Regions from separate parts of the Homo sapiens genome. Here all the other regions are linked to region 1. The links come from fine-mapping of genetic effects on gene expression. A gene starts in region 1. Each other region holds a variant in brackets. All regions are shown on one strand. Distances are from middle to middle.

Region 1 (5,310 bases):
GGTGAAACCCCATCTCTACTAAAATACAAAAATTAGCCGGGCATGATGGCGGGTGCCTGTAATCCCAGCTACTCGGGAGGCTGAGATAGGAGAATCGCTTGAACCCAGGAGACCATGGTTGCAGTGAGCCGAGATCACATAACTGCACTCCAGCCTGGGCAGCTGAGCAAGACTCCGTCTCAAAAAATAAATAAAAATATAAATAAAAATAAATACATAAATAAAACAGTGCTCTGGTTCTAATTAGAAAACACTATTCGGGCCGGGCGCAGTGGCGCATGCCTGTAATCCCAGCATTCTGGGAAGCCAAGGCGGGCGTTTCACCTGAGGTCAGGAGTTCGAGACCAGCCTGGCCAACATGGTGAAACCCTGTCTCTACTAAAAATACAAAAATTAGCCGGGCATGGTGGCGGTCGCCTGTAATCCCAGCTACTCAGGAGACTGAGGCAGAATCGTTTGAACCCGGGAGTTGGAGGCTGCAGTAAGCCGAGATCGTGTAACTGCACTCCAGCCTGGGCAACAGAAACTCTGTCTCAAAAAAAGAAAATACTATTCATCATTTTCCAGGGCAATTCTCTCTAAATAAGTATTATCTAAAACTTTCATAAAATAAATAGTAAGAAAGAGTCATCCTATTCCTTCCATTTCGGAAACTATTTCATCTGAATTTGTTTCCTGAAATTCCCAACCATTCTGCCTGGAAAATTCTAACAGAAGTTCCCCAGACAAGGAAAGACAAAGATATATGTTGACAAAAATGAATACGTAAGTAAAAACCACCCATTTCTTTCCTTAAGGCAACAAGATTATAAATTTTATTCCTTTCCACTTCCCACAATTTGAATTTCTCTTTTGAGTTACTCTTTATGAATGACTCCATTGGCACCCAACAGCTCCATTCAGGACCTTCCCCAAGAAAGCTTCCAGGTAAACAGAAAAACAACGAATGTTAGCTCCCTAAAACAATAACAAGATGGAGACAAAACACTGGATTCTGTTTTTCTACATTCAAAACACAGAATCAGTACACAAAATCAGAAATACACCCAGAGCCTCAGACAAAACCCATAAACCTTCCTAAGGAATCTTGTTTAATTTTCACTTCTTGCTACCCATTTATCAAGTCTTAGGAAATGCTAAAACACGGTTCTCAGCCTCCTCTGTTCAGTGATCCAAATCTGCCACTGCTAATGCATTCAGTACCCCAGATCTGAAACTGTTTTGTGAACAGAAATACTTAGCAGCAGCAGATATGGGCTATGCCAACATTAACCTTGTCCCTAAAACAAAGTGACAAACCACTCCTAGCCTCACCCTCAAGGGAGGGTAAGCAGTAACGACTCCTCCAGGAGTAAGGCCAGGAAGCCAGGTTTATCATTAACACTCATCAGCTCAAGCCCAAGGTTTAGCCGCTGCACCTCCACCACCAGGGAGCCGTGCGGGGCGGGCAGAGGGGTGAATGAGGCGGGCGGGCGGGCGGGGCGTAGGGTAGGCCCGGGAAAGGCGGGGCCGCACTGCCGGGTCCCCCACCGCCCGGCACCGCCCCCAGCCCCGCCCCCAGCCACCCGGGCTCCGCGGCAGCTCTGCAGTCCCCGCGCGATTGCAGCGCGCGCCCGGGACCCCTTCCCGCAGCCGCCTCCCCCTTGCTGCGCGACCCCCAGCACTTACCTGCTTTGCAAACCGGGGCGCTGGGGCTCCTCTTCTCCGGCGAGCTTCGGCTCTGCTCCGGAGACCTCCTCCGATGCCGGACGCGGGCTGGGGGTGGGGCCGCGCTCACCTCGCCGGTCCACAGGTGGGTGGGCGACGAGCTGGGCGACGACACGGTGCCCAGCAGCGGCGGCGGCGGCGGCGGCCGTGGGGGGCTCCCGCGAGCTCCAGGCGCGGCGCTGCGCGTGGGGCTGGTGCCTCGCGTGGACGTCGCGGACGCGCCCGTCTGCGTGGCCACCGTGGGGCTGGTGCGCGCGGCCGCGTTCCCGCCGCCGCGCGTGGGGCTGGTGCTGCGCGAGGCGGTGCGCGGGCCACCGCCGCCGCCGCCGCCTGCGGGGCCTGAGGCGCCACCACAGCAGCCACCGTTGTTGTTGCCGCCGCCGCCGCCGCCGCTCCGCGTGGGGCTGCCATGTTGCTGCTGCTGCTGCTGCTTCAGCTGGAACGGAACCGTCGCCCTCATGGGCTGCAAGCGGCTCCCGGGTCCCCCGGCCGTGGCCACCGCACCACCCCCAAGGGAGCCGGCCGGCGTGGGGGACCCATTGCGCCTCACCCGCTGGGACATGGTCCCCCCCCTCCCCGGTGACTGGGCGAGACGGGGGGTTTTGTTGTTGTTGGGCTGCAGGGGGAGGATTCTCGAGGCCGGAGGGCAGGCCCCCCAAGACGGGGTGACGAAGCCGGACTCCGGGGTGCAGGGGGAGACCGGGCCGGGGCAGGCAGCAACGAGGTGGTGCAGCCGCCGCCGCCGCCGCCGCCGCTCCTCATCAACAATAGTGTCTCCTCTGCTGCCCCCGCCCCCCACGATCGCCCATTGGTGCAGCGTCAGCCGCGCTCGAGCCGCTCCACTGCTCCCATTGGCTACGAGCAGCTCGGGTCCCGGGCCCCCGAGGCCTTGAGAGCCTGGGTGTGCGCGGAGACCGTCTGCTCTTTAAAGAGAAAGAGACCCGCCCCCCGCGGGGAGGGAGCGGAGGAAATGGGCCCTGTGTGTATGTGTAGTGTGCGCGCGTGTGTGTGTACACGTGAGTGCCCGTGTACGCGCGCGCCTAGCCACGCGCGCCTTTCCTTTCCCGCCGGGGGGAGCCCTGGGGACTCAGACTCTGGAAGGTTGCCAAAGGAAATGTCCAGACCCGGAGCAGTTCCCAGGGATGGTCTGAAGCCTTTTCCGCATAACTCATTTCCTTACCCCAGTGTTCACTTGTGTTCACCTGTACGCGCATCTCGTTCGGGCTTTTATTCTTAATGTTTTTGTTCTGCCCTAATTCCATCTACCTATGGGCAGGGCTCAAAAGGAGAAGAAATTTAACTAATCTTACTGGCATTTTACGCCCCTCTCCTTTTATTTTTTAGAGCTCTACAAAGAGGCAAATCTCAGAAAGATTAAACTTGCCTGTTAGAATGCGATTTTAGATAGTATCTATAGAGTTCAGTTACCACATGTTATTCCTACCCTCCTGTATCTCAAGTAATCAAGACTATTTTAATCAGCTGCTTCGCTGTTCCCTGATACCTTGGAAGGATGGCTGCTACCTTACCAGTTTGTAAAGTGCTATAGTTTACAGAGGGCCTTATTTGATTCTACACGATCATTGTTTGAGACAGAACTGGGACAGCCATCCATATTTTTGTCTAGCGGAGGAAACAAGTCTTTGGTGTGGCAAAGACTCGGGAAGGCAGGCAGTGACACTATTTCTAAAATGACCTAAAGGGCTCCTCATCAAGAAAATAAAAAATGGTGGAGCCAAAACCTACACTCCCACCTGTCTGGCTATAAATTGCCTATCCATGACCTCTTTTCCCTCTACTATTTTTATTAGTTGTACATGCTAGACAGATTTCGTCGTGTAAAAATGTGGGAGTGGAGGGCATAGTATGATTCACTCTGGACCTGAAATCCTACTGGGTCCCTTTGCGCGGTGGTGGAAGGCCTTTTTTTTTTTTTTTTGAGAAGAAGTCTCTCTCTGTCACCTAGGCTGGAGTGCAGTGGCGGAGTGCACTGGCTCGAATCTCGGCTCAGTGCAACCTCCGCCTCCCGCGTTCAAGCAATTCTCCTGCCTCCGCCTCCCAAGTAGCTGGGATTACAGGCGCGTGCCGCCACGCCCCGTAATTTTTCTGTTTTTAGTAAAGAGGCGGTTTCACCATGTTGGCCAGGGTGGTCTTGATCTCTTGATCTCATGATCCGCCCACCTCGGCCTCCAAAAATGCTGGAATTACAGGCGTGAGGTGGAAGGCTTTTAAAGACCTAGAGAGGAGGCCGGGTGTGGTGGCTCATGCCTGTAATCCCAGCACTTTGAGAGGCTGAGGCGGGCGGATCACCTGAGGTCGGGAGTTCGAGACCAGCTTGACCAACATGGAGGAAACCCCGTCTCTACTAAAAATACAAAATTAGCCGGGCGTGGTGGCACATGCCTGTAATCTCAGCTACTCGGGAGGCTGAGGCAGGAGAATCGCTTGAACCCGGGAGGCAGAGGTTGGAAGGAGCCGAGATCGTTCCATTGCACTCCAGCCTGGGCAACAAGAGCGAAACTCTGTCTTAAAAAAAAAAAAAATTAAAAAAAAAAGACCTAGAGAGGAAATTAAAATCCCATGACCACCACTTACTCTGTGACCTTGAGTGGATCACTAGCCAGTCTCCTTATCTGTAAAATGCAGTTAAACAGTACCATGTGCTTCATACTGTTGTTATGATTATTAACCAAGGATGATATGAGAATGTGGTGTGTAGAAGATGGTCAGCACTTCCAGAGTCTCCATGTGATTCAGAGACCCACATCTCTCCTTACCATCCATTCCCCTTTCTCCTCCTCTCTCCCCCTCCACAGAGAAAGCCCCAGCCCCTTAGCCCAGGAACCTGCCTTAAGTTGGCTGGTGCTCTGGATAGATCTGACGTCACTATCTGGCCCCTACAGCCTGGTGTGAGGCCAAAAACAGCTTCTCACTGGATAGGAACATACAGGAAACTGCCAGCAGGATCCATGCAAAGAGCCAAGTCTGGTCTGAAAAGCATGGATAGACAAGATATGCCTTTAAATAAGGATGTAATCCCAGCACTTTGGGAGGCCAAGGCAGATCACTTGAGGTCAGGTGTTCGAGATCAGCCTGGCCAACATGGCGAAACCCTGTCTCTACTAAAAATACAAAATTAGCCAGGCATGATGGCACATGCCTATAATCCCAGCTACTCAGGAGGCTGAGGCAAGAGAATAGCTTGAAACCCGGAAGTCAGAGGCTGCAGTGAACGGAGATCTCGCCACTGCACTGCAGCCTGGACGACAGAGCCAGACTCTGAAATAAATAACTCATGGAGGCTGTATGTGGTATGTGGTATTTTGTCTTGCACAAAGTAGGACCTCAATACATATTTACTGAATTAATCCAAAGGAAGTCCTGCAGCCCTGGTGTCCTTAGCTTCCTGATCAATTGATTTGGATATCACCAAACTAGAGACATCTTTGTTGGTGGCAAGAGGCTTTTAGCTTGCCTGAGCTGAAGAACTGATTTCAGCAGATCTTATTAGATTTCATTAAATCAACTGATTTCACTAGATCAAAGAGCTTAAAAAAATGTCCTTGGCTCAGTCATGAGATCTGATGGAGCCATTTCGCCTTT
Region 2 (5,310 bases), 79 kb before region 1:
CCGGATCTAGAAAATAGCCTCAGAAGGGCAAACTGAATAGTTATAGGCCTTACAAGGGAGGTAAAGAAAGAGATGGGGTAGAAAGTTTATTCAAACGGGGCCTTGTAGTAACCTCAAATCAAAAAACATACAACAACAGATACACTAAAAATAAAAAGCAAGAAAATAAATCATACCACCAGAGAAAATCACCTTCACTAAAAGGAAGACAGGAAGGAAGGAAAGAAGGAAGACCACAAAACAACCAGAAAACAAATAACAAAATGGCAGGAGTAAGTCTTCACTCATCAATAACAACATTGAATGAAAATGGACTAAACTCTCCAAACAAAACACACAGTGGCTACATGAATAAAAACAACACACCCAATGATCTGCTGCCTACAAGAAACACATTTCATTTATGAAAAACTATATACGCTGAAAAAAAAAGGGATGGAAAAAGATGTTGTTTGCAAATGGAAACCAAAAAAGAGCAGGAGTAGCTATATTTAGACAACACAGATTTGAAGACAAAAACTGTAAGAAGAGACAAAGAAGGTCACTACATAATGATAAAGGTGTCGATTCAACAAAAAGATATCCTCTCCCTCTCCCTCTCCCCTTTCCACGGTCTCCCTCTGATGCCGAGCCAAAGCTGGACTGTACTGCTGCCATCTCGGCTCACTGCAACCTCCCTGCCTGATTCTCCTGCCTCAGCCTGCCGAGTGCCTGCGATTGCAGGCACGCGCCACCACGCCTGACTGGTTTTCGTATTTTTTTGGTGGAGACGGGGTTTTGCTGTGTTGGCCGGGCTGGTCTCCATCTCCTAACCGCAAGTGATCCGCCAGCCTCGGCCTCCCGAGGTGCCGGGATTGCAGACGGAGTCTCATTCACTCAGTGCTCAATGGTGCCCAGGCTGGAGTGCGGTGGCCTGATCTCGGCTTGCTACAACCTCCACCTCCCAGCCGCCTGCCTTGGCCTCCCAAAGTGCCGAGATTGCAGCCTCTGCCCGGCCGCCATGCCATCTGGGAAGTGAGGAGCGTCTCTGCCTGGCCGCCCATCATCTGGGATGTGAGGAGCCCCTCTGCCTGGCTGCCCAGTCTGGGAAGTGAGGAGCGCCTCTTCCCGGCCACCATCACATCTAGGAAGTGAGGAGCGTCTCTGCCCGGCCGCCCATCGTCTGAGATGTGGGGAGCGCCTCTGCCCCGCCACCCTGTCTGGGACGTGAGGAGCGCCTCTGCCCGGCCGCAACCCCGTCTGGGAGGTGAGGAGCGTCTCTGCCCGGCCGCCCCGTCTGAGAAGTGAGGAGCCCCTCCGCCTGGCAGCCACCCCGTCTGGGAAGTGAGGAGCGTCTCCGCCCGGCAGCCACCCCGTCCGGGAGGGAGGTGGGGGTCAGCCCCCGCCAGGCCAGCCGCCCCGTCCCGGAGGGAGGTGGGGGGTCAGCCCCCGCCCGGCCAGCCGCCCCGTCCGGGAGGGAGGTGTGGGGTCAGCCCCCGCCCGGCCAGCCGACCCGTCCGGGAGGGAGGTGGGGGGTCAGCCCCTGCCCGGCCAGCCGCCCCGTCCGGGAGGTGGGGGGCGCCTCTGCCCGGCTGCCCCTTCTGGGAAGTGAGGAGCCCCTCTGCCCCGCCACCACCCCGTCTGGGAGGTGTACCCAACAGCTCATTGAGAACGGGCCATGATGACAATGGCAGTTTTGTGGAATAGAAAAGGGGGAAAGGTGGGGAAAAGACTGAGAAATCGGATGGTTGCTGTGTCTGTGTAGAAAGAAGTAGACATGGGAGACTTTTCATTTTGTTCTGTACTAAGAAAAATTCTTCTGCCTTGGGATCCTGTTGATCTATGACCTTACCCCCAACCCTGTGCTCTCTGAAACATGTGCTGTGTCCACTCAGGGTTAAATGGATTAAGGGCGGTGCAAGATGTGCTTTGTTAAACAGATGCTTGAAGGCAGCATGCTAGTTAAAGAGTCATCACCACTCCCTAATCTCAAGTACCCAGGGACACAAACACTGCGGAAGGCCGCAGGGTCCTCTGCCTAGGAAAACCAGAGACCTTTGTTCACTTGTTTATCTGCTGACCTTCCCTCCACTATTGTCCTATGACCCTGCCAAATCCCCCTCTGCGAGAAACACCCAAGAATGATCAATAAAAAAAAAAAAAAAAAGAAAAAAAAAAGATATAACAACTGTAAATATATATGCACCCAACACTGGAGCACACAAATATATAAAGCAAATATTATTAGATCTAAATAGAGATGGACCCCAATACAATAACAGCTGGAGACTTCACCACCCCACTTTCAGTACTGAACAGTTCATTTATACATAAAATCAACAACAAAAAAATCAGACTCAATCTATACTATAAATCAAATGGACCTAATAGATATTTGCAGAACATTTCAACCAACAGCTGTAGAATACACATTCTTTCCTCAGCACATGGATCATTCTCAAGGACAGACTATGTTAGGTCACAAAAAAAAGTCTTAACACATTCTGAAAAATCTGAAATAATATCAAGCATCTTCACTGACCACAGTGGAATAAAACTAGATATCAATAATGAGGAATTTTGGAAACTATAAAAAAAAATGAAAATTAAACAATATGCTCCTGAATGACCAATGGGTCAATGAAGAAATTAAGAAGGAAATTTAAAAATTTCTTACAACAAATGATAATGGAGGGCCAGGCGCAGTGGCTCACACCTGTAATCCTAGCACTTGGGGAGGCCAAGGCAGGTGGATCACCTGAAGTTGAGAGTTTGAGACCAACCTGGCCAACATGGTGAAACCTCATCTCTACTAAAAATACAAAAATTAGTTGGGCATGGTGGCATGTGCCTGAAATCCCAGCTACTTGGGAGGCTGAGGCAAGAGAATTGTTTGAACCCAGGAGGTGGAGGTTGCAGTGAGCCAAGATCACACCACTGCACTCCAACCTGAGCAACAGAGCGAAACTCCTTCTCAAAAAAAATAATGGAAACACAACATACCAAAATCTATGGGATACAGTGAAAGTAGCACTAAGAGGGAATTTTACAGCTAAAAGTGCCTACATCAAAAAACAAGAAAAACTTGAAATAAACAACCTAATAATGCATCTTAAA[G/C]AACCAGAAAGGAGCAAACCAAACACAAAATTAACAGAAAAAATAATAGAGATCAGAACAGAAATAAATGAATTTGACATGAAGACAACAATACAAAAGATCAACAAAACAAAAAGGTGGGTTTTGAAAAGATAAAATTGACAAATCTTTAGCCAGACTAAGAGAAAAAGAGAGATCTAAATAAATAAAATCAGAGAGGGAAAAGTAGATATTACAACTGATACCACAGAAATTCAAAGGATCATTATTGGCTACTATGAGCAACTATATGCCAATACGTTGTAAAATCTAGAATAAATGGATAAATTCCTAGACACACACAACCTAACAATATTTAACTATGAATAAATCCAAAACCTGAACAGACCAATAACAAGTAACAAAATCAAAACCATAATAAAAAGCACCCCGGCAAAGAAAATCCCAGGACCCAATGGCTTCAGTGCTGAATTCCACCAAACATTTAAAGAAGAACTAACACCAATCCTACTAAAACTATTCTGAAAAACAGAGGAGGGAATATTTCCAAACTCATTCTACGAGGCCAGTATTACCCTGTTACCAAAACCAAACACTTCAAAGAAAGAAAACTATAGGCCAATATCACTGATGAATATTGATGCAAAATTTAACAAAATACTAGCAAACTGAATTCAACAACACATTAAAAAGATCATTTATTATGACCAAATGGAATTTATCCCAGGGATGCAAGGATGGTTCAACAAATGCAAATCAGTGTGATATATCACATTAACAGAATGAAGACAAAAACTATATGATCATTTTGATGCTGAAAATGCATTTGATAACATCCAACATCTCTTCATGATAAAAACCTTCAAAAAACTGGGTACAGAAGGAACATATCTCCACATAATACAAGTCATTTATGGCAGACCCATAGCTAGTGTCATATTGAATAGGGAAAAATGGAAACCCTTTCCTGTAAGATAGGGAATATGACAAGGATGCCCACTTTCACCACTGTTACTCATTATAGTACTGGAAGAGCTAGACAGAGCAACTGGACAAGAGAATGAAATAATAGGCACCCAAACTGTAATGGAAGAAGTCAAATTATCCTTGTTTGCAGATAATATGATCTTATATTTGGAAACACCTAAAGCCTCCACACGCACAAAAAAAAAAAAAAAAAAAAAAGAGAGCTGATAAATTCAGCAAGGTTGCAGGATACAAAATCAACATACAAAAATCAGTGATATTTCTATATGCCAACAGCAAATAATCTGAAAAAGAAATCAGCAAAGTAATTCCATTTACAATAGCTACAAATAAAATAAAACACCTAGGAATTAACCAAAGAAGTGAAAGATCTCTTCATTGAAAACTGTAAAACACTGAGTGAAGAAATTAAAGACACACAAAAAAAGAAAGAAATCCCATGTTCATGGATTAAAAGAATAGATATTGTTAAAATGTTCATACTAGCCAAAGCAATCTACAGATTTAATGCAATCTCTACCAAAATACCATAACATTCTTCACAGAAATGGAAAAAAAAATCCTAAAATTTATAAGGATCCACAAAAGACCCAGAATAGCCCAAGTTATCCTGAGCAAAAAGAACAAAACTGGAAGAATCACATTACTGACTTCAAATTATACTACAGAATGACAGTAACCAAAATGGCATGGTATTGGCATACAAACAGACACATAGAGGTCAGTGGAATAGAAGAGAGAATCCAGAGATAAATCCATACATCTACAGTGAACTCAGTTTTGACAAAGATGCCAAGAACATACATGGGGAAAGGACAGTCTGTTCAATAAACGGTGCTGGGGAAACTGGTTATTCTTATGCAGAAGAATGAAACTAGACCCTATCTCTCACCTTATACAAAAATGAAATCAAAATGGATTAAAGATTTAAATCTGAGACCTCAAACTATGAAACTACTACAAGAAAACATTGGGAAAACTCTCCATGATGTTTGTCTGGGCAAAGATTTCTTGAGTAATAACCCACAAGCAAAGGCAACCAAAGTGAAATGGACAAATAGGGTCATATCAAGTTAAAAGCTTCTGCACAGTAATGGAAACAATCAACAGAGTGAAAAAGACAACCCAAAGAATGGGAGAAAATATTTGCAAATTATCCATCCAACAAGGGATTAATGGCCAAAATATAAAAGGAGCTCAATAGGCAAAACTCTAATAATCCAATTTAAAATGGGCAAAATATCTCAA
Region 3 (5,310 bases), 110 kb before region 1:
CATCCTCCTAGACAATTATTTGCACACATATGTAAATACTTCCTTAGAATAAATTCCTGGGGTGAGGAGCTATTTTCCTGGGGGGACATAAAGGATAGTAAAGATTTTTCAGGACTTTGATTCATAATGCCAAACCAAATAGTAAAATATTTTTACTCCTCACATTTTTATCTGCACTCTATGAATATATATGTTTCATGAAACTCTCTAAATTGGATTTATTTTTTCTAAACCTTTGCTAAGTTTCATAAACTACCAGTGCTCTCATTCCTTCAGTTTTTATATTGTAGAATACACAATGAAATACTCATCAGTTATGTATACACATGTACACGCACACACACAACCACATTTTTCTTTATTCATTCAACTGTTGATGGGCACTTAGGTTGATTCCATACAATGGCTACCGAGAGTGGCTACGATAAACATGTGAGCGCAGGGTATCCCTTTGATATGTTAATTTTTGTCTTTTTGATAACAGCCATTCTAACAGGGGTGAGGTGATATCTCATTATGGATTTGGATTTGATTTGCATTTCCCTGATGACTAGTAAAGATGAACTTTTTAAAATATATATTTGTTGGCCATTTAATCTATGTCTTTTTTTGAGAAATGTCTAGTCAGACATTTAATCTGTCTCTTCTAAGAAATGTCTAGTCAGATTGCCCATTTTTTAATGGGATTCTTTGTTGTTGTTGTTTTTTGCTATTGAGTTCCTTGAAGATTCTCGATGTTAGTTCCTTGTTGGATGAATAGTTTGCAAATATTTTCCTCCATTCAACAGGTTTTCTCTTCACTCTGTTGTTTCCTTTGCTGTACAGAAGCTTTTAAATTTAATATAGTCTCATTTGTATATATTTTTTTGTTACCTAGGCTTTTGTAGTCCTAGCCATAAAATCTTTGCCTAGACCAATGTGCTGAAACATTTCCCCTATGTTTTCTTCCAGGAGTTTTGTAGTTTTGGGTCTTACCTTTAAGGCTTTAATCCATTTTAGGTCGATTTTTATATGTGGTAAGAGATAATGGTCTACTTTCATCCTTCTGCATAAATCAGTTTTCCCAGCACTATTTATTGAAGATGTTCTTTCCTCCAGTGTATGTTCTTAGCACTTCTGTGAAAAATCAGCTGGCTGAAATGCATGAATTTATTTCTGGGTTCTTTATTCTGTTCCGTGGATCCATGCTGTTTGGATGACTATAGCTTTGTGTAATATATTTTGAAGTCAGGTAGTATGATGCCTCTAGCTTTGTTCTTTTTGCTTTGTATGGCTCTATTTGGGGACTTTTGTGGTTCCATTCAAATCTTAGGATTGTTTCTTCTATTTCTGTGAAGAATGTCATTGGTACTTTAACATAAACAATTAATATTTTAATTGCAATCAATCTATAGATTGCTTTGGATAGTATGGTCATTTTAACAACATGAATTCTTCCTATGAACATAGGATATCTTTCCATTTGTGTCCTCTTCAATTTCTTTCATTAGTGTTTGCAGTTTTTGTTGTAGATATCTTTCATTTCCTTGGTTAAATTTATTCTCAGGGTTTTTTATTGTTGTTCTTTTTTAGCTATTGTAACCTGAATTGCTTTCTTTATTTCTTTTTTAGCTAGTTCACTGTGAGTGTATAGAAACACTACTCATTTTTATATATTGACTTTGTATCCAGCGACTTTAGTAAATTCATTTATCAGTTTTGTGATTTTTTTTGTAGTCTTTTGGTTCTTATTTTATGTACAGATAAATTGGAATGGGTAGGTTTTTCCATATATAAGATCATGTCATTTGTAAAGAAAAATTTGACTTTCTGTCTTCCAGTTTGGATGCCTTTTTTTTCTTTCATCTGGTTGCTCTGGCTAGGACCCCCAGTACTATACTGAATAACTGGTGAAAATGGGCACCCTTGTCGTGTTTCAGTTCTTAGAGGAAAGGCTTTCTGCTTTTCCCCATTCAGTACAATTTAGCTGTGGGTTTGTCACCTATTGCTTTTATTATGTCAAGGTATTTTCCTTCTATGCCTAATTTGTTGAGAGTTTTTACCATGGATGAGTGCTGAATTTTATCACATGGTTTTTCTGTATCTATTACAATGATTGTTGGTTTTTGTCCTACATTCTGTTGATGTGATATATCACATTTATTGATTTGTCTATGTTGAACCATCTTTGCATCACTGGAATAAATCCCACTTAATCTTGCTATATTACCTTTTTGATGTGTTGTTAGATCTGGTTTGCCAGTATTTTGCTCAGGATTTTTGCATCTATGTTCAATAGGGATACTGGCCCATAGTGGGTTTTTGTGTTTTTTTTTGTTTTGTTTTTTTTTCCGGTGGTGGCTGTTGTGCCTGTGTCTGGTTTTGGTACAGGGTAATGCTGGCCTCATAAAATGAGTTAGGAGAAACTCCTTCCTCTATAATTGTTTGCAATAGTTTGAGAAGAACTGGTGCTAGTTCTATTTTATGTCTGTTAAAATTCAGCAGTAAAACCATTTAGTTCTGGGCTTTTCTTTGTTGGGACAATTTTTATTACTGATTCAATCTCATAACCAGTAACATGGTTTGTTCAGGTTTTCTACTATTTCCTGGTTCAATCTTGGTAGGCTGTATGTGTCAATGAAATTACCCATTTCCTCTAGGTTTTCCAATTTGTTAGTGTATAGTTGTTCACGCTTATCTTTAATAATCTTTCTTCTAATACTTTTCGGTTTGGTTTGTTCTTACTTTTCTAGTTCCTTGAGGTACACTCTTCAGATTGTTTATTTGAAATCTTTTTTTTTAATGGAGGCATTTATTGGTATATACTTTCCTCTTAGCAATTCTTATACTGTATCTCATAGGTTTTGGTATGTTGTACTTGCATTTTCATTTGCTTCAAGAAATTTTTTTTTATTTCCTTTATTTCTTCATTGACCAATGGTCATTGAGGAGCATGTTAACTTCCATGTATCTGCACAGTTTCCAAATTTCCTTCTTGTTACTGATTCCTAGTTCTAGTCTGTGATTCCTAGTTCTAGTCTGTGGTATGAGAAGATACTTGATAACTTCAATATTTAAAAATTTGTTGAGATATGTTTTGGGGCCTAACATATGGTCTATCCTGGAGAATGTTCCATGTGCTGATATGTGTATGTGTATTCTGTAGCTATTGGATGAAAAATTCTGTAAATG[T/C]CTATTAGTTCAATTTGACCTACAGTGCAGATTAAGTGCAATGTTTCTTTCTTGACTTTCTATATAGATGATCTGTTTGATGCTGAAAGTGAGGTCTTGAAGTCTCCAACTATTATTGCATTGGGGTCTATTTCTCTCTTTAAGCTCTAACACTGTTTGCATTATACACTTGGTGCTCTGGTGTAAGGTGCATATATATTTACAATTGTTATATCCTCTTGCTGAATTAATCCCTTTATCATTACATATAATAACCTTCTTTGTCTTTTTGGTTTTTGACTTGATGTCTATTTTGTGTTATACAAATACAGCGAATCCTGCATACTTTTGGTTTCCATTTGCGTGGAATAGCCTTTTCCATCCCTTCACTTTAAATCAATATGTGTTTTTACAGGGGAAGTGAGTTTCTTGCAGGCAGCATACTAATGGTTCTTATTTTATTACCCATTCAGCCAGTCTACATCTTCTAATTAAAGCCATTTACATTCAAGGTTGTTGTTGATAGGTAAGAACTTACTCCTGTCAGTCACTTTAATTGTTTTTTTGATTGTTTTGTATATCCTTTGTTCCTTTCTTCCTCTTTTATTGTTTACCTTTAGATGTGGTGGGCTTCTTGTAGTGATAATATTTGACTTTCTCTTTCTGATTTATGTCTGCTCAACCAGTGAATTTTACATGTCTGTGTGTTTTCATGATGGTAGATATCCTCCTTTCATTTCCAGATGTAGGACTTGCTTAAGTATTCCTTGTAGGGCTGACCTAGTGGTGATTAATTCCCTCAGTTCTTGCCTGTCTAGAAAAGACTTATTTTGCCTTTTTTTTTTTTTTGACACAGAGTCTCACTCTGTCACTCAAGATGGAGTGCAGTGACACAATCTCCACTCACTGCAACCTCTGCCTCCTGGGTTCAAGAGATTCTCATGCCTCAGCCACCTGAGTAGCTGGGACTACAGGAGTGCACCACCACGCCCAGTTAATTTTTGTATTTTTAGTAGAGACAGGGTTTTGTCATGTTGGCCAGGCTGGTCTCAAACTCCTGACCACAAGATCTGCCTGCCTCAGCCTCCCAAAGTGCTAGGATTACAGGCATGAAAGACCATGCCCAGCCTTTTTTTTTTTTTTTTTTTTTTTGAGACAGAGTCTCACTCTATCACCCAGGCTGGAGTGCAGTGGCGCAATCTTGGCTCATTGCAACCTCTGCCTCCCGGGTTCAAGTGATTCTCTTGTCTCAGACTCCCGAGTAGCTGGGATTACAGGAACCTGCCACCATGCCCAGCTAATTTTTTTTGTATTTTTAGTAGAGATGGGGTTTTGCCATGTTGGCCAGGCTGATCTCGAACTCCTGATCTCAGGTGATCTGCCCACCTTGTACTCCCAAAGTGCTGGGATTTACAAGCGTGAGCCACCATGCCCAGCCAACTTTCCTTTATTTTTGAAGGATATTATTCCTGGGTAAAATATTTTTGGCTAGCAGTCTTTTTTCTTTCAGCACTTTGAATATATCATCCCATTCTCTCCTGGCCTGTAAAGTTTTGGCTGAAAAACTTACTATTAGTCTGATGGTGCTATCATTGGGATGTTTGTTCCTCCAAACCTCATGTTGAAATCTGATGCACAATATTGAAGGTGGGGCGTAACGGGAAGTGTTTGGGACATGGAGGCAGATTTCTCATGAATAGATTAATACTTTTCTCTAGGGAAGAAGTGAATTCACTCCGTTAGTTCCTGCAATAGCTGGAGGTTAAAAAGAGTCTGGCACCATGCCTCTATCTCTCTTGCTTCCTCACTTGATATGTTATCTCTGCACACACTGGCTCCCCTTCACCTTCCGCCATGAGTGGATGCAGTCTGAGGTTCTGGACAGTCTACAGAACCACAAGCCAAATAAAACCCTTACCTTTATAAATAAACCAGCCTTGGGTATTCTTTTACAGAAACACAAACGAACTAAGACAGACGGGGATTCTCTTACATGTGACTTGACACTTCTCTCTTGTTTTTGGAATTCTGTCTTTGACTTTTGACAGTTTGACTATAATATGACTTGGAGAAGACCTTTTTGGGTTAAATCTATTTGGGGATCTTTGAACTTCCTGTATCTGTATATCCATATCTCTTGTAAGACTGAGGGAGTTTTCA

Alleles and levels. Positions count from the first base shown, and alleles are read on the strand shown. Sizes are in standard deviations (SD) of each study's normalised expression.
In carriers of allele G in region 2, the expression in esophagus mucosa of the gene that starts at base 2,488 in region 1 tends to be higher than with C alone (small effect, 0.19 SD a copy in GTEx).
For the expression in prefrontal cortex of the gene that starts at base 2,488 in region 1, T is the high allele of the variant in region 3 and C is the other (small effect, 0.25 SD a copy in CommonMind).

The links. PIP is the estimated chance that this variant, and not a neighbour inherited with it, causes the effect.
Region 2: its variant is the best candidate, but not a certain one, in a credible set for the expression of FAM117B in esophagus mucosa (GTEx, PIP 0.68).
Region 3: its variant is the best candidate, but not a certain one, in a credible set for the expression of FAM117B in prefrontal cortex (CommonMind, PIP 0.58).

The regions. Positions count from the first base shown.
Region 1 is chr2:202,632,147-202,637,456 of GRCh38, reverse strand. It overlaps FAM117B (family with sequence similarity 117 member B), which reads right to left and starts at 2,488. Exons shown (of 8, transcript NM_173511.4): 1 at 1,669-2,488. The coding sequence starts at 2,269. RefSeq lists silencers at 1,441-1,880, 1,981-2,030, 2,221-2,450.
Region 2 is chr2:202,711,370-202,716,679 of GRCh38, reverse strand. The region is part of intron 2 of FAM117B (family with sequence similarity 117 member B); the gene reads right to left. Among named protein-coding and RNA genes, the nearest start is that of FAM117B, 79 kb to the right of the region's middle. RefSeq lists an enhancer at 1,572-2,253. The variant G/C (reference allele first, on the strand shown) is at 3,097.
Region 3 is chr2:202,743,969-202,749,278 of GRCh38, reverse strand. All of the region lies in intron 4 of FAM117B (family with sequence similarity 117 member B), which reads right to left. Among named protein-coding and RNA genes, the nearest start is that of FAM117B, 110 kb to the right of the region's middle. The variant T/C (reference allele first, on the strand shown) is at 3,172.